2 separate regions of the Homo sapiens genome follow, and region 2 is linked to region 1. A link means that fine-mapping ties the variant in region 1 to the expression of a gene that starts in the linked region. Tissue or cell type: blood mononuclear cells. Region 1 holds a variant in brackets; the other region holds the start of a gene. All regions are shown on one strand. Distances are from middle to middle.

Evidence for each region. PIP is the estimated chance that this variant, and not a neighbour inherited with it, causes the effect.
Region 2: it holds the start of NEDD9, and the variant in region 1 is fine-mapped to the expression of NEDD9 in blood mononuclear cells (TOPMed, PIP 0.94).

What each region holds. Positions count from the first base shown.
Region 1 is chr6:11,175,319-11,178,080 of GRCh38, forward strand. No RefSeq gene overlaps it. Among named protein-coding and RNA genes, the nearest start is that of NEDD9, 56 kb to the right of the region's middle. The variant C/A (reference allele first, on the strand shown) is at 1,153.
Region 2 is chr6:11,231,728-11,234,227 of GRCh38, forward strand. NEDD9 (neural precursor cell expressed, developmentally down-regulated 9) reads right to left here and starts at 941. Exons shown (of 7, transcript NM_006403.4): 1 at 777-941. The coding sequence starts at 788. RefSeq lists silencers at 449-498, 979-1,028.

The DNA.
Region 1 (2,762 bases):
GAGAATCACTTGAGCCTGGGAGGTGGAGGTTGCAGTGAGCCAAGATCACACCACTGCACTCCAGCCTGGGTGACAGAGCTTTTGTCTCAAAATAAATAAATAAATAAATAAATAAATAAATAATCTTTCAATCATTTAATGTGGCCTTGAAGGCCTTGCATGGCCAGGTACCTGCCACTTCTTCAGCCTCATTTCTCACCATTCTCCCACTTCTCTGCTGTGCGCCAGGCACACTGGACTCTTCCTGGTCCTAGAACACAGCAGGATCCTGGGGTTCTCAGGGCCTTTGTCCTTACTCCTACTTCTGCTTGGAATGTCCTTTCCCAGCTTTGCTTAGATAAAGTCCATTCACTCATCAGATCTCACATCAAACATCTTTTCCAGAAGAAAGCCATCCCTGCTCCCCACACTACTTTAGGATGCGCCAATATTCCCTCTTATGGAGCTATGTATCTTGACTTCATAGTGTTTCATAGAGTTGCGCTTTTCTTTTCTTTTTTGACAAAACCAACATTTTTTTTTCACTCACCAGATTGGAAGTTTCATAAAGCAAGGGATGTATTAAATTTTTATTGCTTCCCTTGTACCCTCAGTGCCAGGTACATAATAGGTGTTCAATAAATATTTGCAGAACAAATGAATGATTGAAGTTGTATTGATAGTAGTGCAAACTTGGAGGAGAGGCTAATAAAGCCTGTCCAAAATATACCACCCACCAGGTGTGTATAACTTACTCTCTGCCTTTCCTGACTTGTATTTTGAATGTCAGAGATGAAGGTGAATAACAATGAGTAAATAGGATGAAAGAACAGAAAAATCAAAGATACTCAGGAATGACTGAGTGGCCCAGAGAGGCTGTTCAGGAGAATTCATGAAAGGATATAGTAGGAAATGAGAGTGAAAGAGCCATTTGGGGTTAGATCATGATGGGCCTTAAAAGCCACATCATATACTTTAAAGTGTTAGACTTTAGAGAAAGAATAATAGCACATAAGTGATGCTGTACTAGAAACAAGCTGTGGTCTCACTATATTTACTGTAAAGATGATATGTCATGATGCTGTATGATTTACTGTGTTATATAACCCGTTATGAAGACCCTGGTGAGAAATCTCTCTGAGGTCCCAGTATGGGAAACAGTGGGCTTGATTT[C/A]ATTTTATGGATACTTATAAATCATATAACGGATTTCATTTTCCTTCCTTCCTTCCTTCTTTCTTTCTTTTTCTTTTTCTTTTTTGAGATGGAGCCTTGCTTAGTCGCCCAGGCTGGAGTGCAGTGGCGTGATCTTGGCTTACTACAACCTCCGCCTCCCAGGTTCAAGCAATTCTCCTGCCTCAGCCTCCCGAGAGTAGCTGGGATTACAGGCTCCCACCACCACGCCCAGCTAATTTTTGTATTTTTTAGTAGAGATGGGGTTTCACCATGTTGGCCAGTCTGGTCGTGAACTCCTGACCTCAGGTGATCTGCCCACCTTGGCCTCCCAAAGTGTTGGGATTACAGGCGTGAGCCACCGCACCCGGCCGGATCTCATTTTCTTTATCTCATGGGCTGTCCAGAAAACTCAAGGCCAAAGTTCACAGGCCTTTGCAACATGCATTTTGTGTATGAACTATGTTAACAGCTACGTCTTATTTTTTTTACCTTTATTTTCTTTTTATTCAGTTGTCTTCTTCTAAAACGAAAATATTGTATGCACCTTAGTCTTTGTGGGGAGAAAGAGACTAGTTATATGAATTAATAAATAATGTGAGTATTTTACTATTAGGAAAATTAATTGCAAAGAGGACCATATTCAAAATCACATACAAATGTCATAATATTTAAAATTGCACGCGAATATCTTTTGTCCATGCCTCTTACCTGATTTGGGGTAAAGCTACCAGCTAAACCCTGCTCAGGTCATGACTGTAATGCAATTACCCAGAGAATATCCTTTGTACACTTTTCTACCTGCAGCTCCCAGAGTGCTTGTGTGGTATAGGGAAAGGGCTACTTCCATTTTCCAGCCTTGAAACTTGGGCCAAGTTGTTTAATTCCCTTCTAGCTTCAGCCTCCTCCTCTGTAAAGTGAAAATAAGAACTATCTATAAGAGGTTTGCTATGAGGGCAAAGATAATGTGCTTGATGTAGTGTCTGCTAACTCAAACTAGACACCAATAAATGGTGGCGATTGATGTCATTTATACACTAGCACATCTATTGATCTTATGCCTTAACATAGCCAGGGTTTAACCACTTAAATCATATTTTTTCAAAGTATGTATTTGTCCTTATCATTCTTGCCACCTTCAAAAGCCTTTCCATGCATCAAGCACCTCTTCTTAGATTAAATTTCTAGATGGGCCAGACAATGTGTCTCTGACTCTATTTATCTTCCCATTTGTATGTATTTTATTTTTCTTTCACTTTTTTGGTTCTCTTCTGAGAGATATTTTTATTTTAAAATTCTTCATATAAAATTGGGCTTTCCAAAGCATTTCTACAAAAAAATCCTGGTCCCAAGGAGTTGATGATTTGGGAAAGCTCATCCAAATTAATTATTGGTTTGTTTCCTCCATGTTTATTCTAAGACAAATATTCAGATAATCAGAAATGAATGGGGGAAATAATAAAGTATCTTCACATACTTATTTAGAAGCTTTGTACAGATTCAGGGTGAGTATGGGTGCTAAAGATCAGAACAGGTGCTGCCCCGTAGCCTATTGGTTCTAAAAGACTGTTAAAGACAGAGGACTTGACCTTGATGAATGTAGTCGAGAACAA
Region 2 (2,500 bases), 56 kb after region 1:
ATACGGAGCAAGTCAAAAATCCTTTTGGCAAGAAAAATCCACAAACAATGGTGTAAAATGCATTGGAAAATAATGCTGCTGAAGTACTATGACTATGACACTCTGTAAGCTTTCAGGCACAATGAGCCAGCCTGAGCCTTCGCACTCTCACCCCATTCAAACTCCAATAAAAATGTTTTCAAGAAATGGCTCATACTTATTTATTCCTACATCCAATATAACATAAGGATGTCAAAATTTTCCATCCTCAGCTGTGTAATCTGGGCTTTTAATTTCTCCCACCAAAAGTGCATATGGCATACTCCTTCCGAGACCAAACGATTAAAGCAAAGTCTGGAAAACTTTGCACTAAGAGCCAGTCTGAGACAGACTATGCAGTCCTCATTCCTCTCATTACAGTTCCCCAGGGCAGTGGAAGCCAGGCCTGGGGAAGCCAAGGAGACTTGAGCCAATGCCTGCCGCGATTCAAGTCAGACACCCTCTGATCTCCAGTGGCTGCTGTGAAGCGGCTCCAAGTCTTAACTTCTCACCGAGGTATTTCCCCGGCAACTTTCAGAGCAGATGGACTCGGGTGTACTGTGAACCCCTGGAGTGGGTCTCAAAGACCGGGTCTCTGCTTGCTTGTCTGCTTGCATGTCAACCTCAGTGACCGAGACTCATCTTAGAACTCTCCGGGACACACAAGGGACTGACAGTAAGGAACACGCATACACAAGCACACACCCGCAGGCACAGCTTTCAGCTTGCAAGGTAACCTGTAAAAGGCACTCTCTTACCTTATACTTCATTTCGGCAGCGGTGGGTTGAGCCGTTTTCCTACACTAGTTAAGACAGCATTAAGCACTGCGGTGCCCGCCCCTCCATTGAGTGCAGCGCTAGATGAAAGCGAGAAGGTCCCGGGCAGAGCCGCTTGTCAGTCGCAGCGCCTCCCTCAAGTCTCTGAGCTCACTGTTGTGACTGAGGCAGGCTGATCGCGGACCTCATTTGCATGCCGCCCCGCCATTGGCTAGTGGGACAAGGTAATGCTCAGGCCCTGCCCACCCCTAATTCTGAAAAACTGACAAAGAACTTGTAATGTGATCGCTTCTTTTTGCTTTATCAGACGGTGGAAAATAAAACAGAAAGTGGGGAACCGTCCTGAACCTTACTCTGTCCTCCCGCCCCCGCCAAAAAAGAAGACAGAAAGAGAAAGAACAGGAAAAGGAGATACATTCTTTTTAAGATTAACCCAAATTTTAAAGAAACTGAATTCACAAAAGCAGTCTGACAGTCGCGCTTCCTGTGACCTAGCAACTCCTTCATAAACCCATTTCGTTTCAAAGCCATTCACCTCACAATCTCTACATGAAACGAACTCCGGGAACAAAAGGTTTTCTGTCTCCGGGCCCCTTTTTACTAACCACCCCTGCTGATACCTCTCTCTCTCTCTGTCCCTTTTTCTTTCCCCCTCCTCCCGCCTACTTTTTGTGTGTGTGTGACTGTTTGCTTTTTTTGTTCTTTTCAACGTTCAAAGTACTTTGCGATGTCAGTCTGCAAGGAGCTGGAAGACAATTCTCCCTTAGTGAAAAGGAACCCTCTAGCACACGCACCAGCGTTTTCCTGGACAGCTTCTCACCAGGGCCTCAGAGTTGCGGGTCACACATATTGAGCGACCTTCAGTGGCTTTGCTGAGGATAAAGGTTAGATGTGACCTCTCGGATGGGGTTGGCCAGTGCACGCCCTATACATCATCACCGTCCACTGAGTTCTGTGTTCTTTGACGGCTGGCATTTCTAGCTCCAGCTTTGAACACTGCAGTGTTTTTCCTTCTGACCTCTGTCCTGAGGATGACCCATTAACCCACCAACACTTATTATCCAGGAGAACGAAAATGCCCACTGTTTGATGAGCCTGGTTAAAAAGACCAGTCTCTCTCCAGCGAAGCACAGAACATAATTTCTATAAAGGTTCCATTTTAGGATTTCTATAGAGAAAGAGAATCACCCAGAAAACAGAAATGGTCACCTTCTGCAACTCTTCTCACGGACAGAGCAGTGAGGCGAAAAATTCCTTTTTCCCGGGCAAGACTGAGACTCGGTGAATCCAGACAATAGCTGTCCCTGAGTGGGATGCACTCCAACCAGACTACATGACTTGGATGGAAAAATCAGCCCTTATTTTTTTTTTTCCTGACCAAGTTGGATCAGAATCTGATTCCCTTCGCGTCTAACACACAAATTCCCAATGGATGAAAACTCTACTTTTATGATCTAAGCAAAAGGAATGAGAGAACAGCTGTCCTACAAAAGTGGTTTCCAGATACAGGGTTGGCAGGTTAGTTTGCAGTTCAGTGTGGCACTGATTCCAGGGACATGACCCCCCAGGCCATCCTAATGAGGTTGACATACCTGTTCCAGCCTGTATTAGGCCTTGCTTCTCCTCATTTGTCCTTAGAGCAAAAATAAGCCTGAGTGATTGTGCAAGGCCTTTCTGAACACAAATTAAGCACGCAGCATATTGC